Regions from separate parts of the Homo sapiens genome. Here region 2 is linked to region 1. Evidence: fine-mapped expression QTL. A gene starts in region 1. The other region holds a variant in brackets. All regions are shown on one strand. Distances are between the middles of the regions.

Region 1 (12,900 bases):
GATGATAAGGAGAAAGCCATTCAAAGACTTGTTGAAAGGTTGCTCCATAATGAACAAATAGCAAATGTAAAAGCACTGTTCCAAGAACAAGTTTGGAATGTTCTAAGGGACATAATAAATAAAAGGTGGAGAGAGGTGGGTATGACATGAAGTTAGACAAGTAGGCACAGATGATTTCCACCTACCATATTTTTTATCAGTTTTATTGAGGTATAATTGACATACAATAAATTGCATATATTAGTTTCCTGGGACTGCCATAACAAAGTACCATAAACTGAGTGGTTTAAAACAACAGAGATTTATTTTCTTACAGTTTTAGAGGCCAGAAGTCCAAGATCAAAGTGTCTGCAGGACCATGTTCCCTCTGAAGCTGCTGAGCTAGGATGTATTCCAGGCCTCTATTGCAGCTTCTGGTAGTCCTTGGTTTGAAGCAACATAATTTCATTCTTCACATGGCATTCTCCTTGTTCATGTGTCTGTGTCCAAGTGTCCTCTTTTTGGAAGGGGATATATCCAATCATATTGGCTAGTGGCCTACTTTACTCCAGTATTATTTCATATTAATTAATTTCATTTGTAATGAACTTATTTCCAAATAAGTTCACATTCTGATATACTACAGGTTAGAACTTCAACATTTGAATTTTGGGGGTACATAATTCAACCCCTAACCCTGCATATATTTTGGTAGGTTTTAACATATGTATATCCTGTAAAACCATCATCACAATCAAGATAATGAACACATTTTTCACCTCCTAAATATTTCCTCTGCCCCTTGGAAATCCCTCTTTCTTCCCCTTCCTTGCCTTTCCTCATCCCCAGGCAATCATTAGTCTGCTGTCTTACACTAATTTGTATTTTCTGGTATTTTATATAAACTGAATTATATGGCATGTACTCTGTTTTGGTCTGTCTTAATAACATTAAGATTATAACATAATTATTGATGTTCATGTCACTGCTGTGTCAGTAGTTTATTCCTATTTACTGCTGACACATATTCTACTGCATATATATGACATATTTGTTTATCACCTGTGGATGGACATTCAGGTTGTTTCCAGTTTGGGGCTATTAAAAATAAAGATGCTATAAATGTTTATGTACAAGTTCATGTATGGATATATCTTATTATTTCTCTTAGATAAATACTGAGGAGTGGAATGATTGGGTCATATTGTAGGTGTATGTTTAACTTTTTGAGAGACTTATGGACTGACGAACTTGTACCATTTTATGTTTCCATCAAACATTGTATACAAATTTCGATTGCTCCACATCCTTGCTAACCCTTGGTATTTCCAATTTTTAAATTTTAGGCAGCCCAAGACGTGTGTAGTGCTGTCATTGAGGTCTTAATTTCTTATCTCTGAGACTAATGATGAAAATTTTTCATCTGTTTACTTCCCATCTACATAATTTTGTGAAATGTCTATTCAAACATTTGCTTATTTAAAAAATTGGATAATTTTTTTCTTATAATTGAGTATAGCAGGTTCTTCATATATTCTGTATACAAGTTCTTTATCTTATATATAATTTGCAAGTTTCTTTTCTTTCAGTTTGTGGTATGTCGTTCTTTTAACAATGCCTTTCGAAGAGAGAAGTTCTTAATTCTGATGGAGTCCAATTTATCATTTTTTGAAAATGGATCATGCTGTTGGTGTTATATCTAAGAAAGTTTTGCCTAATTCAAGTTTTGCCTAACAAAAGTTTTTTTTTTTTTTTTTGGGACGGAGTCTCGCTCTGTCGCCCAGGCTGGAGTGCAGTGGCGGGATCTCAGCTCACTGCAAGCTCCGCCTCCCGGGTTCACGCCATTCTCCTGCCTCAGCCTCCCAAGTAGCTGAGACTACAGGCGCCCGCCACTACGCCCAGCTAATTTTTTGTATTTTTAGTAGAGACGGGGTTTCACCGTTTTAGCCGGGATGGTCTCGATCTCCTGACCTCGTGATCCGCCCGCCTCGGCCTCCCAAAGTGCTGGGATTACAGGCGTGAGCCACCTCGCCCGGCCCTAACAAAAGTTTTATTCCATGCTTTCTTCTAGAAATGTTAGAATTTTAGTTTTTATATTTCATGTTAATATTTGTATATAATGCAAGATATGTATTGAAGTTATTTATTTATTTTTAAAAAGTATTTATTTTTATATATGGATAACGAATTGTTCCAGCACCATTTGTTGAAAATACTATTTATTTTCTACTCAATTTTGTTTTCACCTTTCTTGAAAATAATTTGACCACATGTGTACAGGTTTATTACTGGACCATATTTTGTTCCAATGATCTGTCTTAACACCACTTTCTTAATTACCATAGGTTTACCATCTTGAAATCAGCGATTCAGTAAGATTTTCAACATAGATGGTCATGTCGTATGTGAATAAAATTTTACTCCTTCCTTTCCCATCTGAATGTCTTTTTTCCTTTGGCTTATTGCGTTAACATTGCACTTACAGCACAGTGTTTAATAGAAGATGCAAAAGCAGACGTTTTTGCCTTTTTCCTGATCTTAGAGTAAACGTACTCTGTCTTTCAATATTAAGCATGATATTAATCATAAATTTTCCATGATGCCTTTTATTAAGTTAGGAGGTTTTCTTCTATTCCAAGTTTGCCGAAAATTTTTTCAGGAATCTATGTTGGATTTTGTAAAATGCTTTTTGTGTATGTGGTTGTGTGTGTGTGTGTGTTTCCATTGGGATCATCATAAGGCTTTTAGTTTTTAGCCCGTTAGTAGGGTGAATTTTCTTAATTGAATGCAAACTAAACTCGCATTCCTGAAATAAATTCCACTTCGACCATGATGTATTATTCTTTTTACATATTGTTTATTTTGTTTTGTTAAATTTTGTGAAGAATTTTTGCATCTATGTTCATTTCATGAGGGTTATTAGTTTGTGGTTTTCTTTTTTGATAATGTCTTTCTTGTGAACTCTAGCTGCCTTGGGGATCCATGGACTCCCAGGTCTATCTCTTCAATTTGGTGATGCTTCTGGCCTCTGCCTTGGTAACTTTTCATGCACTATGGCACAGAAACTTTCTCCAGGCAGTCTCTCCCTGTTTGTTTCCCATCTCTCTCGGATCATGTACTTTTGTTACCTGATGTCCAATATGTATAAAGACATTATTTTATATATTTTGTACTGTTTTATAATTATTTTAGGTGAGAAAGTAAACCTGGATCAGAAGCACAAATTCAACATGCCTGGATTCTTTTAACAGTATGAGATCATATACACTAAGGCCTCTTTAGCAAGAAAATCACTACCCAAATGCATGGTATTTATTATAGTTCTTTTAGTAACAGGCCAAGTGTCTATCAGTTGTCCATTACATATGTACACACACACATACATACATATATCTCCCAGGGATAGGTATATAAATCCGCTAGAAAATGAGTTCCTGAATCAATGCTTTATACAAAGGAGGCACTAATTCCATTAGAAACACACATCCAACATTCTTCCATTTATCATATTCCTGTGTTAGCATCTTGTCTGAAATTAGGTTGGCACACTCATTTCCAGTTTCCCTGTTTTCAAAATTATCTTACTACATAGTAGCTCACATTCCCAAGACCTTGGACCCTGGCATGGCCATTTCTAGGTATATATCTGTTAAACTAAATGTGGCCTGAGGATACCTCTGTTTTGTGAGTTCCTACATAATGAACTGCAACCTAACTTAGTATGTACACTACCTGAAAGCCTAACTTAGGAGTATACTTTTGTAACAGACAGCTGAATTTCAGCTCATCACAGCAGCTGAGCTTCAGTCAATTACAGGCAGCCAGCTGATCAGACTTTGTCCAAGTAAGGCAAGTGCTGATGTATAATGAAATCAAGCTGTTTCGATATCTCATTTCTACTTTCTGTCCATAAATGCTGTCTGCCCACATTGAGGAGCAGAGCTCTGTGAATCTCTTCTGATTCTGAGGGCTGCCTGATTTGACAATCATTCTTTTTTCAATTAAACTGACAAAAACAAGCAATGGGGAAAAGATTCCCTGTACAATAAATGGTGCTGAGATAACTGGCTAGCCATATGCAGAAGACTGAAACTGGATCCCTTCCCTACACCATATAGAAAAATCAACTCAACGTGGATTAAAGACTTACATGTAAAACCTAAAACTGTAAAAACCCTCGAGGATAACCTAGGAAATATCATTCCAGATGTAGGACCGGGCAGAGATTTCATGACGAAGACGACAAATGGAGTTTCAACAAGAACAAAAGTTGACAAATGGGACCTTTAACTAAAGGGCTTCTGCATTATGGCCCAGAAACTTTCTCCAGGCAGTTTCTCCCTGTTTGTTTCCCATCTCTCTAGGATCGTGTACTTTTGTTACCTGATGTAACAGGAAAAGAAACTATCAACATAATAAACACACAACCTACAGAATGGGAGAAAATATTTGCAAACTATGCATCTGACAAAGGTCTAATATCCAGAATCTATAAGGAGCTTAAACAATTTATAAGCAAAAACTGAAGAACCCCGTTAAAAAGTGGGCAAAAGACATAAACAGACACTTTTCAAAAGAAGATATATACATGGCCAATAAGCATATGAAAAAATGCTCACACCACAAATCATTAGAGAAGTGATATTACCTTTTAATAGAAACTGAAGAGGTCAAGCATGCCAATGTCATATGGCAAGTAAATGGCAGGGCCAAAATTTTATCTCAGGTCAGCTTGACATCCTGTCAGATGTGGCCATGTTCCTCAGAGTCATTCTTTCACATGTGTAAATTTTACTTAATATCTTAAAATCCCCCAAAAATATTTTGAACTACACATTTTGTTCTAAACAAAATTTTTAGATGAGGAATAATTTTATATATCTTTACATGAACATTTAGGTAAAACTTGAAGCCCTCAAGCCCCAAATAAATTTTTATTCCCAAGACTTATTTAGATGATGTTAGAGTGTTTTTTGAATTTGGTTTTTCCCATTCTGTATCTATCTTTTATTAATATTAATAAATAAATATTAATAAAGAATATATTTAAAAGGTAATTTTATTTTGAAACAGAAGAGAGGAAAATGCATGCTTTAATAATGTCAGTTTCCAGGTAAAGATATTGTGAGCTTGTTTGTCTAAATACATTTTATTTGGAATTCAGTATGAATTTTCAATAGATGCTTTTCAGATAAGAAAGCAGTAAATCAAATGCAATTGTATAAACAAGAAGATCAGAGGGATTATCCTGAAGGGTATAAAATGAACCAAGAGCTTTTAGTTTGGGTCACCACAGCATCTGCTCACCAATGCAAAGTAAGGTAGGTGTCTATAGTGAGAAGGCTCTGTGAAATGATATGTTCTTAAGCTATTTTTTTTCACTTTCACCATTTTATCATTTTTTAGAAAGTGGCAAATGCTGAAAGATAATTTGCTTCAACAGGCTGTAATATCTTAAATTACTGCTCCAAATTGTTTAGTAGTAGATGGAGGTGAGAGAACTACCTACATAAGGATAAGGAAAAAATTCATTGACTTAAAGAAAGAGAAACAACTGATTAGTTCCCTAATGAAGGATATTTGATATTCATGGCTTTCTTCTGTTTTCATTTTGATTTAAATATTGTTGTCCATTTAATGATGTGTGTATTAAATCCTCTCAATTACTGTACTAATGGCCATCTTTTATGAAAATGTACTTCCGGGAATGTTAGAGCAAATTCATTTTTGAGTACCTGCTGGGGTAATGTACTCTGTATTATAAGTTCTTTTTAGTTATTTAATAGCTAAACCTCCTTTGATAGTGTTCAACACACACACAGCTGCTGTATAGTACATTTTGCTTTCTAGAAAAATATACTGCTTTAGTGAAGTTCCAGGATTATTCATAGGATGGGCAATTAGTTCTTTTCATAGTAAGGGATTTGGAGAGTAAAAATTAATGAAGGAAATTAGCAGAGCAGAGAGGAAAGTGTTTATTAAGAATGAAGCATTGGGAGCAAAAATAAGAGAAAAAAAGAGAGGAAAGAGGCAAAGGAAAGAACATATCTTGGAATAAGAAAATACGTTCAAAGTAGGGACATATATGTCCATGCATCTGAAGAAGGCATCTCATTATTTAGGCCCTGCCTGAAACCATGCCTTCTATGTTTAGGTACCCAACAAATTATTCATGGTGATTTCAGAATAAGCAATTAAGTGGCAAAGATGAGAACCCAGATGACAATGAGGAAGAAATTGTGGCATATCACAGAGGAAGGGATTAACTAACGCGGATTTGTACAGTGTTATACAGCTATGTGATCTTTCTTATATAGAGAGCCAAGTGTTTCACATGTATTGTTTTATTCTTTTTATGATTTTAGGAAGGGACATATGGAAAAATGAAGGCACAAAGATATTAAATTGCTCAGTTGCACACAATTACAATTAAATCCTTAAGTAGAATTTAGATCACTAACTCTTAATCAATCAATCAGATCTGACACTAATTTATCATATAGAATTACAGACTATTTGTGCTGCGAAGATTTTCATGATCATCTTCTGGCTCTAAGCCCTGCTTTTATAGGTGAGAAAGTTGAGGCCCAGAAAGATTCTGTGGGTGAAGTTTTACTATTCGCAATAAAGAAGTAAAGGAAAAGAAAAGTTCTTGCTTTCTTTATGCCCACAAAGTTGTACAGATACTGTGGCTGGTAATTCAGCACTTCCATTTTCTACTTTTGTTAGTTTAGAGTTCTACATTTATAGGAGAAACTTCAAAAAAATATAGAGTATCCATAGTTAGTATGACAATAGGAAAACCAAAACAAATTTTCATCCTACATTTTAAAAAGGGTCAGGTGTACTTGTCACTTTCTATTTTGCAGATGGGGAAATAACACTCAAACAGATTATATATTTTAGTCAAGTTCTCATAGATTTATGGAAGAATTCTGTTTCTTAATTTTTAGACCAATATTTTCATCACCAGGTCACCACATTGATTTTATACAGAATTATAGAGCTAAAAGTTAAAATATGTGAAGTTAGTTGTTTCCTATAGAAAAAACTCAGTAGCTGGCTGTCTAAACAAGCAAGAACTATAATGGCCATGATGGGTAAGCATTTTACATAATTTACCAGTTAGTAATTTTAAGATCCTACAGAGGATCATCAAGTTCTGTATCTCTAAAATACTGGAAGCAACTCTGTACCATAGAGGGAGCTCACATTTGAGAAGCGCTTGAGAAAGCCAGATTCCATGAGTAAGGAATTTGTATGTTTTTGCTCCTTAACTCAAATACCAAACAAACCTTCCGTGGAATGTTTGAATATGCAACATTTCATTTAAAAGAATTTGTGAGAAAAACCCCTGTTATTTTAACCTTTAAAAGTTAAGTCTTCCTAAAATGGGTTAGTTTACTTTCTTGTGTAATAAGAAGTATAGTAAACATAAATCTTTGATAATTGTAGGTCTTAAAGTCTTAATTTGGACTCTTTCAGAGCACTAGAACAATCTGCGTTTTTATTATTTGTGTTCATATTAGCTCCTCCACTGGACAGTCAGCCCTTTAGGTAAAGGACCGTAGCTTTTCCGTTTGTGTTTGTCAGTGCCTGGTTCAGATGCTCAATATATGTTTATCTAATTTATCTACAATTCTCATTCTAGGAATAGAAGGTTGATTGAAATGACCACTGATCTCTGGAATTTGACATTTAAAATAAATCCCTGGTAACCTGTGTAATGTGGTTTTCATGGTTTCTTATAAGTTGATTGAAAAAAAAATCCTGGTTAACCAAGGCCGAACCTATGAGGTTTCAGTTTACAGAGGTTTTAGTGTATATAGCTTAAAGATGCTGTTGGGATATAACTGACAGATTTGGGGAAATCTTGGTACTTCTGATTATTGAACAAAATATTTAGTAAATTATATTTTATTTAATAGAACAAGCAAACAAGTTTATGTTCATAGACCACAATACTACTCCATTAAGGTATATATTTTCTTTACTGACAATGATACTTGAGAAGGAAAAAAATCCAAACACATCTAGCTAGCTGTACAATATTTGTAAGATTAAAAAAATTCTTCTTAATCTTCAAGGTGATCAACTTACATTCAAAAGTCTGAAATTTAATTACCCTTCCTCAGTAGTAGACCTAAAATAATTATGTCATAACATTATCCAGAGGGATAATGATATCAATATCAATATCATATCAATATCATATTGATATGATATATCCAATATGATATCATATCCAATATAACTATATCCAATCAATACATATTGATAATGATATCCAATTGATATTGAACAAGTTCTTCATCACGCAGGCTCTATTGAGATGCATGTTCTGTTTCTGCCTGAGGCACTGTGGATCCTCTATTTTCTTCCATGCATCCAAAAATTATTTAATATTCCTGGCTAACCCATAATGGAGCTGTCATCCTTGATTGTATTCTTCTAATTGTGTCAACCTTTTTTTTTTTTTTGCCTGTTAATCTTTTTGAGAACAAATTACATACCTGTTCTGTGTAAAATAATCTTTAATTTGTCCCAGCTGTACATATTTCCACCTTAAAGGGATATCCTAAGGGTTTGGAAGTGGGATCAGGGGGTTCCTAGATTTCTGAGTTAGCCCCTTAACACCAGTTGTAATTTCAGTTGACCTTTTTTGGACTTTATCTTTCTGGTGTCTTCCTTGACCAAATGGTAGAATTATAAGCATGATCATATGCATTGGGATGGTACTGAAGTTTGGTTATACTTTTTCTTGGTTTCTTTGCCCTTTCTGATTTTAACAAATAGGTTCTTTAATTTTATCTTTGATTTAGCATGACTGCTCTCTTTCTGATGTCCATGCTTTTTGGCCTTACATGTGGGCAAGCGATGTCTTTTTGTATTCCAACTGAGTATACAATGCACATCGAAAGGAGAGAGTGTGCTTATTGCCTAACCATCAACACCACCATCTGTGCTGGATATTGTATGACACGGGTATGTAGTTCATGTCACTTCTTTTGGCTGTAAATTATATAAGCCCTGAAGAAGTCCATTCCTATATAGAAAGGAAATGAAATAAATCACAACCTCATTTCCCAAATCTAATGGTTATTGGCTCCTTAGAAGCAGAGTACACAGGTTACAATATTATGTGAATCTACTCAGCACAATGGATACGCATAATTTTATAACAGTTTTGTGTCCCAGCTTTACTTAAACCTTATCTTGTTCCCATGATCAACGATGAAAGAGAGGAGGGTCTCACTTTTGTCTCTGTAGAATTCAACGTGGTTAAGTTGGTATTGGAGAATGGGGCTAAGCAATTCTTTCCCAGTTGTATTTGTGATGAAGGAATATAAGTGAATTTATTTTTATGTTTCTATTATCTATATGTTTCCTAAAGTCCTGTCACATTATGCTCTCTTTTCTGTTCTTTCCCCAGGATATCAATGGCAAACTGTTTCTTCCCAAATATGCTCTGTCCCAGGATGTTTGCACATATAGAGACTTCATCTACAGGACTGTAGAAATACCAGGATGCCCACTCCATGTTGCTCCCTATTTTTCCTATCCTGTTGCTTTAAGCTGTAAGTGTGGCAAGTGCAATACTGACTATAGTGACTGCATACATGAAGCCATCAAGACAAACTACTGTACCAAACCTCAGAAGTCTTATCTGGTAGGATTTTCTGTCTAATAGTGATATAATTTGCAATTTGGTTAAATGTGCTTGCCTGAAATAAAGCTAATAAAAATATTATGTTTCACATTATCTTCTGTTCATTTTGAGTACTATTTAATCCATACCCATACCTACACAGGCGTTAGAGAGCTTAAGTGGTTTTAGAAGAAAAGGTGAATGAATGGACCTTTTGGGCTCAGTTGAAGGTTGGTTTTCACGTGAAAGAGCAGAGTGGTGGTAAAATGGAGAACAGGGATATGAAATGCCAAAAAGCTCACCTTGAACAGTCTCTCCTAACAGAGGGCCAGGAGGTTTCTATGATATAGAAAGTGAATGTGGGATGACTACAGAGTTATGAAGAGAGAGTAATGTGATCAAAAGCTGAAGGAACACATGGTGTCAGGATACTGGAGACATCTACTTCCAAAGGCTAGAAGCAGGGCTGGCATGGAGGTGGGGAGTAAGGAGCATGTGGAATCTACAGTGGAGTGCTTTATTCCTGGTCATTCAAATGCACTGGATAAAACTCCACCCAAACTCAGAAGAGTCTAGGAACTATTTTCTTTAATTAATTACTCTGGTGCACCAAGTGACCTATGAAAGTTATACCCCAAAAAGTCAGTTTACAAAGCCTAGAAAAGAGGCCACGATCATTTTACATGTGGAAGTCTAAATCCTTTGTAGGCCTTCAAGTAATAGGAGATGCTTTTCAGCATTTATACCAAAAGTAACTGGTGCTGTTTTGACTTTTAATGTAATGAAAAACTGGTATGACAATAAAAGGTTTTAGGGATGGGGGAGAGTGCAAAGGGATTTGAGAGAGTGGAATTATTCTAAATTCTAATCTAAACCTTCATCAATATTGAAACACTGTTTTCTGGTAAATGTGCTTGGTAAGCAGCTGTTTATTTTTATTCTCCTTCCTTAGACACTCTTTCATGAGAATTTGGTTTCAACAGATGATTGACGTGAGACAGACCCAGTGCCCTGTAGACTTGATCTCAAAAAGTTGATATATCCTCTCTTTGTCCATTCCTTTTCATTCACACTGCCCCACCAAGGTGAAAAACAGTTGTCAGCAGGGCCAGTTGCCTTTGCTGTATTCTATAGCCACCAGTTAAATTCAGCTAGGCATACTGTAAATGTCTGTATGCTGATTGATAGTGCATGGGGTGGGCTGAGGAGGGTGGTGGTGGTAGTGGTGGGGTCCTGTAGATGGATTAGTACAACAGGGAGGGAATAGATGTGTATTTACATACAAAAGTCAGAACTCACATTATTTTACTTTAATATCTGAAATTGGTATTTGTGTGGTCTCCACATATTAATCTAGGGTTTTGTGTTCTCATATCAGCTGATAACATGGACATTTAAAGCTGCATACCACTTAAACTGTATGTCAAATACAGATCTTTAATAAATAAAAAGTCTAATGTTCAAATCTAACAGGGACTAGTCACAAATGCCTTCATGGATTCTGAAAAAGTTTTCTCAAGGATTTGAACTGTCTGAGTCTAAGTGCAATAAAAATTCTTTTATAAAGTTAACTTCCACTCTACTGTTCACTGTTGGGTTCTTCCCTACTTGCTTATCTCTCCTGGTTAATCCCCACTTATAAGACAACTCTATCTCACTTTCTCTACTTCTGCTACCCTCCTTCTACCTGCCGTTTCTGCCTGCTTAGCATCCATGTCTCTTCTTCTGGTAGCTGCACCTTGATTTCCCTCTGGGGTTCTCTTCACCTACAGTTTGAGTTCAAGTGGTTTCAGTGGGGATGATGAGGGTGGGTATGCTACTAGGCTCAACCAAACCTGGACTATTAGAAAGAGAAGTGGTTGGCCTGTTGGAGTTCCTAAACTGATAAAATGTGAGCCTGGAGTTGCTGCTGGCCATCTTTGGCATCCCTTGGAAACAGCTAGCTGTCCAACCCAGTGGAGAGCAAGAGAGACTGAGGAGAGAGAGGCCTATTGATATCATTTGAGCCTAATCTGAAGCTGGCTTCACCCCTTAAAAGAAACCATAACTTCCCTTTTCTGCCCAGTTAGAGTTAGGTTTCTGACACTTGCAACTGAGAAGTTCTGATAGATTCAGCTCTTTCCCACTAGTTTCAGAAGATGCTCCTAATTCCATTCCTCATCTCCCCTAGGACTTCATTGTTTGCTGTCGTATTTTCTCTTGCTTCCTTTTTCTTGATTCCTTCTTTTCAGTATGAAGCATCCTTAAATCTCTTTCCATCATAAAAAAAGCAAAAGCAAAAAAACAACCCTCTCTTGATCCTCTGCAACCATCTAGTTATTTGCCCCCTCTCTCCTTGAGTTCTTATTTCGAGTTTTGTGTGTGTGTGTGTGTGAAAGAGCCCACTACACTAACCAACTACTTCCTCACTTCTCGTTCTCTTCACAATCATTACAATTTGGCTTCCACTATTGTCCCCTCTTGAAATTGTTTTCAGTAAGGTCAACAATGACTTGCTAATGGGCCAATATACAGGACAACTGTTAGTCCCAATCTGCCCTGACCTCCCTTCTTCCCTAGAGGGCCCAGTGGTCCTCACATATCTGGATTCACAATGCAATACATCTTATTGTAGCAGCCTTGCCAATGCACCACAATGTTTTAGTTTTGTTGTTTTTAAGTAGGACTCAGAGTTCTTTGTCTTACCACCAAGAAAATTAAGGAGCATGAACACTAGGGTGAGGATGAAGCGAAAGTTTAATAAGTGAAAGGAGAAAGCTCTCCTTTCGAGCAGGAAACTGAAAGAGGGTTGCTATTCTACAGTGGAATACAAGGGCTTTTATAAACAGGCTAGTAGGGCAAGATATTTCATTTACATAAGGTGTAAAAAAATGGTTAGGACTAGGTGTTTCATTTGCATAAGACACAAATTCCTGACAGCTCCTCCCTGTCTTTTTAGTGTGCATGTGGACTCTTAGCCTAAGTTACTCTATATTACTTAGTTTCCCTTACTGTGCATGTGTAAGGGGGCGGAATTCTCCATTGTGGATGTGCCGGGTTCTGTGTTACTGCTCTTGGGCATGTTTCAAGCAAGCCCTCTCCTCCCTCCCCTGTGCAAACTCCCTTATCTCAGTATGTTCAAAAAAGGAAAGGAATGTGCTCACTGAAGCCTACTGTGTATAAGTGACCCTTGCTAATTACACAGAAGGTATCTTCATGGTGGACCTTGCCTCCTTATCTATGCTTGCAGTCTGATCTTTCAGGCTGTTCCTTTTTTAGACAAAAGGAATCCT
Region 2 (12,900 bases), 52 kb after region 1:
CAGGCAGAGATGGTAGTACAGAGGTTCATTTCCTTACCTCGATGCTGTGTTTGTTAAGGAGAGTCTGGGGGAGGTCGGAGGTTGGGGCTTGAGAGGGTGTGGGACAGACCATGACTCGGCTTCTACTTTGTTTGCTACCATCTTGGAAAGCCCATAGCAAGGTCTGCCTGAGGGGAGGAGGGACAGAAGCCCACACTTTGATGGAAACCATCAGGAGCATGAATGTTACCTGGAGGTCAGACATAGCAGGGAGCCAAAGGGAAAGGCTTGAATGGCTGAGGACCAGGGACAGGACACCAGGGGAGTGGACGTGGAGAGCTGTGAGAACTACGAACTCACTGTACTCATTGAAGAACTTTGCTGAGGGCTGCCCTGCTTCCAGGACCAGCGCCAATCCCTGTGCCTTTGGAACAATTACAACTAGAAACATTGTTGTTTTTCTGGAAATGGACTTTTTCATACAGAAGCAAAAGTTGGACTTTGATGTTAATCCTTTAAAATACACTTATTGAGCAACTACTATGAGTCAGAAGCCAAGGTTTCAGAGATGAGGAAAGTCCAGTCCTTCTTCTGGGGCTCAAGGAGACGCTAATCCCCACTGGGTGGCCCAGGAGGGAATCCAACCCTGCAGGTGGGAAGTCAATCCAGAGGCAGCCCACCAGAATGCACATGAGAAATTGCCAGAAAGCACCATTTTTTGAGTCCTCCCTCCCTTTTTTTTTTTTTGACAAGGTCTCACTCTGTCACCCAGGCTGGAGTACAGTGGTGCCATCACAGCTCACTGCAGCCTCAACTTCCCGGGCTCTAGCGATCCACCACCTCAGCCCTCCAAGTAGCTGGGAATACAGGCACACACCATCACACTAGCTAATTTTTGTATTTTTTGTAGAGATGGGGTTTTACCATGTTGCCTAAGCTAGTCTCGAACTCCTGGACTCAAGTGATCTGCTCACCTCAGCCTCTCAAAGTACTAGGATTACAAGTATGAGCCACCGTGCCCAGCCTCATCATTCCTTTTCTGAGGACCGGTTGTATGTGAGGTACTCAGAGAATGTGATAAAATAGTATTTAAGGGCAAGAGTGTGCCAACTGTTAAAAAGAGGACAAGAAAAATACTTAAAAAAAAAAAAAGAAGATAAGAATGCAGGGAAAGGAATAGATAGTGACAATAATTCCAAGTCATTAAATAGGGGATCATCACATATGGTTATAGTACGTATTGTCTTGGGCAAGTTCTTTCAGTAGCTAACCATATTCCAGAGAGTTTGGAGGACACGAAATTGCAAATTGTAAGCATATGTCTTTAGTGAAAACAATGTGTGTTCTAAAACTCAAGAAACAGAAGAAGGACTGAAAACTTGATTAGAAAGCATTTAAAGCAAAGTGGATGGACAAAAAGTTTTCTTTAATAATGGCTATCTGCCAAAAAAAAGTCATCGTGCATGAAGCAGAGCTTGCTAATAGATTTCAATTTTATTTTACTGTACTTACTTCCATTTCCTGGGATTGCTGATGAGATGTCCTATCTTGAGGACATATTTTTTCATTTTAAAAAAAGACAGGTTTCACAAATTGCAAACATGGTCCCTAGGCAGGCGCTGCGGTTGGAGTGGGGTGGTGCTGAGATGCAAGAATGCAGAGATCATTCCTCATTCTGGCCTCCCCAGTCTGCCCAGCTGTCCTCCTTTTCCTGGAGGTTAGCCAACCAGATCACCAAGAGCAAATACCTGCTATCCACTTTCTAGTGACTAAGTCCAGCAAAAAAGCCCCCTTTGGGGGTAAAAAGCATCATTTAGGGAAGTTCTAGACAGCATGTGCACTGATACCTAAGTGGGAAACACAGGTCCTGGCCCTCAGATGCTCCAGCTACAGTTTCAGATCCTTCCTGCCCCTGTGGAGGTCTCTGTTCTTGCTGTTCCCTCCTCCGCCTCCCCCTAGCTGACACCCATTCACAGCTCTAACATTAATTCCTCAGGGAAGCCTACCATGACCTAGATAGGTACCTTCTTTTATATCTCACATAATGTTTTCTACTTAAATATGCCCATATTTTGTAAATTAAGGCCTAAGCTCTGTGAGGGCAGGGACAGGGTCTATATTGCTGTTTCCCAAACATAATCCCCTCTGCCCTGCAGAGTGGGCTCCCAATAGACATTTGCTAAATGAGTGAATGGAGGACCTTCACAAAGATGCTATAGACTGAATTGTATCCCTCCAACCTGCAAAATTCACAGGTTGAGGCCTAATTCCCAGTGTGAGGATATGTGGGGTTGGGGCTTTGGGAGGTAACTAGGTTTAAATGAGGTCATGAGGGTGGGGCCATCATGAGGGACTAGTGCCCTTATAAGAAGAGACACCAGAGAGCTTGCTTTCTGTCTCTCCACCATATGAAGACATGGCAAGAAGGTAGCTGTCCACAAGCCCTCACCAGGGAGCCCTCACCAGAATCCAACCTGACTTCCAACCTCCAGCACCTGACCTCTGACTTCTAGTCTCCAGAACTGTGAAAAATAAATTTCTGCTTCAGCCACCCCACTCTGTGGTATTATATTTTTAAAATGTCAGCTTGAGCTGATTAAGACAGGCTGACAGGAGCAATTGCGAACAACCTCCTTCACAAGTCTCCAAGGGAATACTTCACAAAGTGCTATTTTCAAACTCATCTGCACCTGGGAAACACTGCAGATACCTTCGAAGGCACTGTGTGAACACGCTGTTGAATATGCTCAGCAAAACACATGCCTCAGAAACAGAAAACAAAAGTAGAGCACATAGTATCAGTTCTGTGTTTTCCTAAGCCTGCAGGAATGTGTGTTGTGTACCATCCACGGATACAAAGAATAAATCTACACAATGTAAATCTACACAATGTATACATGCCTTCCACTGGCAGGGGCATATGAACACAATACAATTATAGCGCCACACACACACACACACACACACACACACACGCGCATGCTGCACTCAAATGAAAGAATGAACAAAATCAATTCTGTATTCTTGCTTCTCCAGGGTGAATACCAACTCATTTGCAATTCTCTTCTTTGGGATGAAGTCACAAAATTGGAAATGATGCTTCAACCCTAGAATTTTCATTAAATGCTTTTAAGCTAATACTTGCTCTTGGTGGCAATTCTCATCCCCATTGGAATCACATAATGAGCACTTATGATTATTGATCTGATTGTAAACCCCATTATGATACCTTAAGGGTAATGGAGTCTCACCCTCTTAGCAGGCAAAAGTCAGAAGCACATTTGCTCTGGAAGATGATCTGAATTTTCTCAAAGAGGAAAACCAGCTCCCAAGATTTTTATTCTGTTATGCAGTAAAAGCAAGTCAAGGATTCAGATGGCATTTCTTCAAAATCAAGGGTTTTATCAGAAAAAATACAAGAATTGAATGCCATATGACATCTATGTCAAATGGTCTCCGAAGGACCTCACTACCTTGGCCTTCATCAGGACCAGGTGAGTGGGAACTGAGAGGCAGGACTGTGGCAGCCTGTGGCGATGAGAAGGCTGTGTTAGTCTGGAAATGCATGGCAGCTCCTTTAGGTACCAGTGTTTCTGATCTCCCCATTATTTTCCTCATGCCATTTCCTAAGAAAAAGCTCACAGTAAGAAAAACTTCCTTCAGGTAAGAGTATATTTTATAATTGACCAATGCTTAATTCTCTGCAGTGATGGAAGGGTGGTGCAATTCAGGCCACAATAAAATCAGGAGTGTTCCATTCATCTCTGCAAAGAACACTGGGCTATACATTTGTGCCAGATGCACCTTCAGTTTGTTTAAATTGTTATAAAGTTAACTTGCATGGGTCAACCAACATTGCTGGGGGCAGTTTAGAAGTGCTGGAGAAATATAAGCTCAGGGGAAGGAAACTAACTTGGGATGAAAAGCTTGCTGCAAATGATAGAGCAGATAATTTACATATAGACAGTGGAAAATGTGTTGTTTATTTGGTGATTATACATAATGTCTTTTCTCTTAACAATACAGGGAGAAGGAGAAGGAGATTAGGGAACATCAAGAATTAGGAGAAAGACGATGGCTGTGTAGTTTTCTTGCTTTTTATTTTTTTGAGATAGGGTCTTACTCTGTTGCCCAGGCTGGAGTGCAGTGGCCTGATCACAGCTCACTGCAGTCTTGACCTCCCAGGCTCAATCCATCCTCCCACCTCCTCCTCCCACTACAAGCATGTGCAACCACATCCAGCTATTTTTTTCTATTTTTTGGTAGAGATGGGGCCTTACTTTGTTGTCCAGACTGGTCTTGAACTCCCGGGCACAAGTGATCCTCTTGCCTCAGCCTCCCAAAGTGCTGGGATTACAGGTGTGAGCCACCATGCCCAGCCTATGTAGTCTTCTTTATACTATACAGCAAAATGAAATGTCATAGACTACTGGCTAAGGATTCCAGGGAGCAGATGGCTTTCTCAAATGAAGATCAAATATGTACAGAACTAAAATCTGGTCTACCAAGTCACAGAAGTGAACTGAACTCAATGTCTGCCTTACTTACCTCATCAAGGGGATAAGCCCGGAGAGGAAAAAAATGGTCTTTTCTAGGTTCAGCGGACCTCCTCCTTGGAACATCCAGCTGGCTCTCATCCTAGGCCTGCCCTCTGCATATATAATCACTTATCTTGGAGGCCACAATGACTACTGTGACATCTCATCTATATAGAGCTTTACATAAGCAAAGACAACACATTAAACAATATTTATTTATAGTGGTTGGGAGAACTACTTTGGAGCAGATAAACAATTCTTAATTATTGATCAATAAATAATGATCTTCATCCAGTTTTAGTTGTTACAGAATGACAGTGGTTAAAAAAATGTTTCAAATGGAACTAAGGCTAGATTAGAAAAGCCAAAACAATTTGTTTACTAAGAAGTTAGCATGGGTGGAATCTAGCAGAAATTGTGAAAGTCTAGCTTGGTGCTCTATAGAGATTTTTCTTAAAAGCCATTTTACCAGGACCTGTTTGAGGTCAGGAAGGTGCAGCACTGGTCCATTCACAGAAGGCTAGATAGACTCTGGCGGGAGCAGGGAGACAAAGTCGGCTTCCTGGATGAGTGACAGCAACTTCCAATGCACCCCTGGCCCTGCTCAGCCTTGCTCTGCCACCCCTGTTAATAAGCTGACTCTTTCCCAATCACCATTACGATGTGGAGGACAGAGCTTGGTACACATCCTGGAATATCTGCCAACTGTTCTTCTAGAAATTCACCTCTTCTGGGTGTTCAGAATATATAATGATGCCCTTAGGGTAATAAACACATGCGTGCATACGGTACGTAGGTGTAAAGGAGTTGTAGTGGATAAAAATGGGGGTTCTACGCATTTGGGTTTGAATCAGACTCTGGCACTTACTGGTCCTATAATCTTGGGCAAGCCACTTAACCTCTCTAACCCCAGCTTCCTCATCTGCAAAGTGAAGGTAATAATAGTGCCTCCTAAAGAGACTAAATGAGTTCATGTTACACACTGAGAACAGTAAGTGCCTCACACTTTGTGCTATTATGTTGGTAGACTTGCTAATGTTACCTTCAAACCAAAAGCTTAATCTTCAAGATAGGAAACATCGCTCCCATGGTTCCAATAATGTGGTTTGCTGCAGCCGTCCTCTACTAATTTTTATTTTAGATCCACACTCCCTCTTTCCATGACAGCTGGAATTCCTTTCGGTTTTCTAAATCTTCTATACTAGAAAGTCAGTAGCCTTTTGTGGAAACTATGTCTCCTCTCTTTAATGTTTTTAAGACCCCATAAGAGAAAAATATGAATAGATATATTTATGAGTGAAAGAATAACTATATTTAGGCTAGGGCTGTCAAGAAGACCTTTCTCCAATGATGTAAATGTCCTATATCTCTGCTGTCCAGCGTTGTGGCCACTAGGCACCTATGGCTATGGAGCTCTGAAATGTAGCTAGTGGGACTGAGAAAATGAAGGTTACATTTTATTTAGTTTTAATTAATTTAAATAGCTACATGTGATCAGTAGCATAGTCGCCGCATTGGACAGTGCAGGTCTAGAATTCACAAGTTTGTCAGAGCTTCAACCTTCCTCTCCGATAGTCTGTAGACTTGGAGTGGTTATGAGTACAGACTCTGGGGACACACATAGAGACACAGCTCTGCCACTGGCCAGCTCTCAAGTCTCTTCAATGCTTCAGACCTCTGTTTTCTCATATGTAAACTGGGGATGATAACTGCTACTATTTCATAGGGTTGTTGTGAGGATTAAATTAGTTAATAAATGCTTAGGAAAGCAGCTGGCACATAGTGTACATTTATATAGTGCTTACTATTCTTCAAGTTTTTGCTCCTGAAATTAACTTTTTAAACTGTCTCTTGATATATACCCTTTCTCAATTTCCATGTTACTTTTCCTCTGCCTGAAACTGATCAGCAGTGTTCCCAACCTCTCTCCTTCCTGCTTCTTCTCCCATATGCCTTAGTATTTTTAGGCATCTCTTTGTACCTGTTTCTGGAATGCATCAAGACTAAATCTGACACTGAATATAATCTCCCTGATCACAGGCTTCAGATTTTCCAAGTTAGCAGCATTTCTTATACCTTATATTCTACACGTTCCAATAAATTAAAACAATGAAAAAAGCATGGGGTTTAAAGTCAGAAGACCTGGGACATACCACCTACTGTGCCTGACTTTCAGCTTTCACAACTGTAAAATGGGAATAATTACACTATTTCGTGAGATTGTTGTGATTCATGATCAGGTGGGATAACGCATATGAAAGCACTTCGTAAACTGAAGCATTGTTATTTTTGTTCCCAATCAAATTCAAAGAGGATGAAAAAGGCAGGCCAAGGTAACCCGAGTTAATTCATCTGTAAGATGTGCTCCCAGCCCATCTGGTATTTCCATCTTGCTGGCAGCATTCTCTCTTTAATTCCTTAGCAACCATGACATGATTTGTTTCAGTGCTCAGTATAGCATCACTTGTTTTAAGGGAGCAGCTTCGCGATATTAACTGTCAAGGTTGGGGGATAGAGGTTACGTTCTCTTTTGTCACACATGGTTGGAGACCCAAAGACACTTCATGGCTGATGTTCTAGAACAACAAGGTGAAATGCAATGAACAATGGACAGGTGGCCTCCCGGTAATTCCAGAAAGCATCAAGTATTAGCGTAAAAAAGAGACTTAATAAAGGTAAAGTGGTAACTGAAATTAAAAGAACTGCCAAAAACAAGCCAAGTGAGTAAGCCAAGAAGCAGGGCACACCCTGCTTCAGTCAGAAACAAGTGCCACTGCTGAATCTCTGACCTCTTCAGGCCACATCTAAAACAGGGGTTCTCAAAGCATGTTCCCAGACCAGCAACACGAGCATCACCTGGGAGCTTGTTAGAAATGCAGACCCACTGAATCCGAATAAAGCTGAATAAGCTCCCTATGTGATCTGTACGCAC[G/A]TTAAAGTTTGAGAGGCACTGATCACCAAAGGTTTTCCCATTGCTTTTCCTTGGCCTCCACTTAGTAGCACAGAAGTGGGAAAGGAAATAAACAGATCCTGCTCCAGGGTCAGTGCACACAACTACCTTAGCTGGAGCCATGCTTAACTCTATTAGGTACTGAGGGATTGGGAGAAAGGGGATGCCAAAAGGACACAGTCCCTGCCCTCAAGGAGCAAAGACTAAACAGGGAATAAATTCTAATCAAAGGCAAAATGGAGGCTAAATAAAGGCATGAGTGCCTCAAGATCAAGGGCTGTGTCTTAATCATCTTTGAATTCCCAGCACTTGGCAGGGAACGGTGGAGGAAGTGATCTCTCCTTTTGACTCCATGCCCTTGATAAACTCCAAGCCTCTTGCTACCTTGCTTGCTTAGCTGGATGTAAAACACCTGCCTGCTTTGTTGTGACTTTATGAACCTCTTGGATTCTAGATTCTACTTTCCCATTTGTACTTCTAGTATTTAAAAACAACTATTACTGATATGTTATTATTTACTGTATGCATGAACCATACTTATAACCTTACATATATTAACTCATTTTATGTGCACAAAGTTCACAGATATTAGTAGTTTATTATGTCCATTATACAGATGAGAAAATGGAGGCTCAAAGAGGTTAAACAACTTGCCCAAAGTCCCCTAGGTAGTAAAGAGTGGAGGCAGGAATAGAGTCAGGCAGTATGATGTCAGTATCCACTGCCCAGGTTTTGGATTCCTGGATTTGAACTGCCACGCTGCATAGGTCTGTCCGAGGTCTACCGGAACCCTGGCACCATAGCTGTGGCTTCTTCAGACTGTCCCCTCTTGTAGGCTATCTGTTCCTCCTAGCAATTCTAGGTCCACACTAGGGGACACTGGCCCCTGGTACTCTCTTTCCACCTTGACAAAAATCAGAAATGAAGATTCTCCTCCAGCGAGGCTGAGAACATTCCTATCTGCCTTATGGGCTGGTCTCCAAAGAATACTTTCTTTAGGTATTTTTTCCTAAACCAATGTCTCTGACAGGTGATTGCTCTGAAGTTACTGTTTGAAATAAGTTTGGGAAAGAGTGGAAGGTGACCTCTATGAGATTCATGTGAGTCAAACTTCTTTGACTCCCAAGCCTGCAAGACACTGTCTTTCTTAAATGTACCTGTTAGGCATCCCCAAGTGAAAACCCAAAGCTGTATTAATAATGGTGAGAAGGAAAGGAGGGCAACTTCAGACTTGCCATATATGGAATCTGCTTTTCAACAATGAACAGCTCTGCTTCCTGTGGGTCAGTAACGCTGAGCAGCTAGTGCAGCACAATGATAGGAAAACACTGACCATACAACAATAAACCAAGGAATAAACAGCGCCCAGGTTTTCCTTTAAGCCAACATATGCGGCTTGGTGGGGGTGTAGTGTTTTATTTATATTGCTATGCAACGTAGGAAAAAAAAAGGTGATTTCAATGAAAGGCACAGGAATATGCTGTGCTATCTGATCGCAGGTCTGAATTTAGACATGACAGATGTTGGGAGGGGTTTCACATTTGACATCAACCACGATAAGAGAAATTAATGTAGTGGGGTTAATGGCTAGGCTTTATTTTGTTTTTAAAAATTCAGTGGTGAGTACAGTCAGCGGCCCTGGGCCAGGGAATACTGTGCTGGCTCTGGCAGGGCCTGGTTGTATGTTTATGAAACCAGGAGCACAGCCTAGGGAAACTTAAAGCAAGCTGCCAGAGGAGGCTGCAAATTGATCTGTTAAATCGCAGATCACCAAACAGAACCTGTCCCACCTCTATGCTTACTTCTGGCGAGGTTCTGATTGGAAGGAAGTGCTGTCACCCAAGGAACCCCGTAACTCCGAGGGGCAGGCACATGAGCTTCTAAGGGTGTGTGTAAATTTATACTTCAGTCACAGCTAAAGTCTGGCCTTCTAGGAAAACTATCCCCCACCCCTTTCCCAAACTTCCCACGAAGCCCTCCAACCACAAAAAAACAACTTTAGAAACTTGAGTGGGGCTTTTCTGGAATCAGGTTCCCTCAGTTACAGTGAAGGCAGATATCTAGATACTTTATCCCACACTTTCCCTTAAGTCATGAGGTGCCTGTTTCAGTTGCCTCTTCGCTCTAGTTGCTGCCTCCACCCCCACCCCCCATGAAACTGGGGGAGAGGAAGGTCCTTCATGTCCTACTGCATGCCTTCTATATGCTAGGCACTATTCTAGCACTGGGGATACAGCTATGAGCAAAACAGAAAAAACAAAATTCCTGCTCTCAGAGTGTTTTAAGTTCTAGTGGGGAAAATCCACAAGTACAAATTGACAAGATAAGGTGTAGTTATCCTCAAATGAAGACAAATGGCAAGTCACTTGGCAAACTTATATACTATTCCCCACCAAGAAAGGAATCAGGAGAAAGAGAGCTAACATTTATTGAATGCTTCCTATGTGCCGATAACAAAAATAATAATTAATATTTTTGAGCATTTACTATGTCCTAGGCTCATAGGAAGTTGAGGTCACATACTTTATATATTCCCTCTTAATCCTCTCAATATTTCTGTTACTCCAATAGCACAGATGAGAAAACAAGCCTAGAAGTAACAATAACTTGCTCAAGTACACCCTGTTTGTGCAGGCACGCCCTGCTTGGGATCTCTGCACTCCAGCCTGATGGCTTCGACAGTCAGATGGTGGCGCACACTCCCCCTTGCTCTGCTCCTCTGCTGGTGGATGGTGCGTCACCCCCTCGCTTTGCCCAGCTCCATTCTACCAGTCCTTCCAGGTTTAGCTCGAATAGCTCCTTCTTAAGGAGAACTTTTCTGGCTCCTCATCATGACTGTGATCCTTTCTCTAAACTCCTTACTTAGATCACATATAGAGAAGGTCGGATCTAACCTCACTGGTTAACACATTCAAGCACTTAAAACTGCACTGCTCCTACTTCCTTTCCTTACTGTGCTTACGGTCAACAGTGTGAAACTTGTCACTTGATTCCACACTGTCTTATTTTTGTGTTGTTCCATATCCACTGGTCTCGTTTCCTCAATGAGATGAGCAGCTTAGGGAACTGTGTTTATATTTATAAATTATTATTTGTTTAATCATTGTTTAACAGAATGGGTCTCAAATTTGAGCATGGATCAGAATTATGTGAATGGCTTGTTAAATTAGATTGCTGGATCCTACCCCCAGAGTTTCTGATTCAGCAAGTCTGGGATGAGCTGAGAATTTTGTTTGTTTGTTTGTTTGTTTTTGAGATGGAGTTTCGCTCTTGTTGCCCAGGCTGGAGTGCAATGTGGCACCATCTCAGCTCACTGCAACCTCTGCCTCCCGGGTTCAAGAGATTCTTCTGCTTCAGCCTCCCAAGTAGCTGGGATTACAGGCACCCACCACCATGCCCGGCTAATTTTTGTACTTTAGTAGAGATGAGGTTTCATCATGTTGGCCAGGCTGGTCTCGAACTCCTGACCTCAGGTGATCCGCCTGCCTTGGCCTCCTAAAGTGCTGGGATTACAGGCATGAGCCACTGTGCCCGGCCTGAGAATTTGTATTTCTGACAAATTCCCAGGATATGCTGATGCTGCTGGCCCAGGAACCACTTTTGAGAACCACTGGTTAATTGAATGTACCACAGTGCTTAAGAGAAGGTAGGCGGCCAGGCGCGGTGGCTCACGCCTGTAATCTCAGCACTTTGGGAGGCTGAGGCAGGCAGATCATGAGGTCAGAAGATGGAGACCATCCTGGCTAACACGGTAAAATCCCGTCTGTACTAAAAATACAAAAAAACTAGCCAGACGTGGCGGAGGGTGCTTGTAGTCCCAGCTATTTGGGCGGCTGAGGCAGGAGAATGGCGTGCATCTGGGAGGTGGAGCTTGCAGTGAGTGGAGATCGGGCCACTGCACTCCAGCCTGGGCTACAGAGTGAGACTCCGTCTCAAAAAAAAAAAAAAAAAAAGAGAAGGTAGGCTGAGTTTGAATACCATCCCTGCCACTCACTAGCTGTGTGATCTTAGGTGACTTAACCAATTTGAGCCTGTTTCCTCATCTGTAAAAAATGGGGATAATAATAGTATATGTATATCAGGACTCTTGTGAGGATTATGTGTAATAATGAAAGTAATATGCTTAGCACTGTCCCTGACACATTGAAAACATTCAATGAATCCTTCCAGCTATCACTGGAAAGGCTGGTACAATATCAGCCACTAAATAAGCACTGAACCCAGCTTAAGAATTCCTCCTCAGGCTTAAAACTTCATAAGGCTTTGAATTCATAAGCAGTGAGAATGAAGGTTGTCACTGTGGCGTGACATCTATAATTAACAGCTTCTGAAATTAAGCCAGATTCCTAAAAAATACAACATAAAGGGTCTTCAGAAACGCCTCTCCCTATAGTATGCTTGATGTAAATCCCCACGTGTACAAAGGCCATGTGTCTCTTTAAAGTTCAGGGGATGTCGAGGAGGTACCTCCTTCACACCTTCCACTGCTGAAGGATACTGAAGAGCTTGGAGTTGCTGAAGTCACCCAGGCATCTGGGCTAATGGATTGACAGACAAAAGAGGAGCCCATCATTCAATAATTAATTAGTTGCAATCATGGGAAGACAACGTCCCCCAGAGCAGATAGGACAGCCACCTCCTCCAACCTGGTAGTTTCAAAGCACCCAGGCCCTGGCTGCTCTCAAACCTCTTTATCCAATGTTTCCCCTCAGGGTCTAGCTGAGCAGTTACACTGGCTGACATTCTCTTAAGAAAGCCCAAGAGGAAATGTGCAGAAAAGACAATTTTCAGACCTTGTCTCACAGTCCTGCAGGCCCTGGGACAGGGTATCCAGGGATGTAGGTCTGGTCTAGCTGTATCCCTGTCTCGATAATATAGGAGACAAGGGTCAAGATCCTATCTCTCTGTGAACCATGAATCCTGGGAACGCTGTCAGTTCAATCAAACCCTGCAAAGTTGAATGAGATCATCTCTGGGAGAATTAGTATTTAGCAGAGGCTGCGGCTGGGGGTTGTGGAGAGCTGCTGCTGCCCTTTAGAAGCCCTTCCATTCCCCATCCCCTTCTCAGAAGAGAACCCACCACCTCCTCTCACCCAGGGGTACTCTTACCCTGATGCCCAGAAAAAGGACGACGCCCCCCCACCACAATTTTCACTCCTATCTCCAATTTCCTAAACAAAACCATCACAGCCAGGTACAGTGTCCACACACTCGAATGGAGCACCACCCCAGGCAGCCCCAGGGCAGGGGTTTCTCTCCCATCACCCTGGCCAGGCCCTGGTTCCAGCTGGTAGGCAGAGTGAAAAGGGGGTGTGTGCACGGGAGACTGGAGGGGAACAGGGACCCAAGTCCTCCGGAGGTGAGGAGAGGCTGGGTCCCCGCACCTGGGGTCACTAGCTGGGAGATAAAAACCAAGGCAGGTGGGGGTTCCTT

What was found. PIP is the estimated chance that this variant, and not a neighbour inherited with it, causes the effect. A credible set is the group of variants that fine-mapping cannot tell apart.
Region 2: its variant is the best candidate, but not a certain one, in a credible set for the expression of TSHB in cerebellar hemisphere (GTEx, PIP 0.82).

The regions. Positions count from the first base shown.
Region 1 is chr1:115,024,561-115,037,460 of GRCh38, forward strand. TSHB (thyroid stimulating hormone subunit beta) reads left to right here and starts at 5,266. Exons shown (of 3, transcript NM_000549.5): 1 at 5,266-5,300; 2 at 8,802-8,964; 3 at 9,413-9,742. The coding sequence starts at 8,803. The coding sequence ends at 9,667. RefSeq lists an enhancer at 12,668-12,900.
Region 2 is chr1:115,076,215-115,089,114 of GRCh38, forward strand. All of the region lies in intron 1 of TSPAN2 (tetraspanin 2), which reads right to left. Among named protein-coding and RNA genes, the nearest start is that of TSPAN2, 6.8 kb to the right of the region's middle. The variant G/A (reference allele first, on the strand shown) is at 7,450.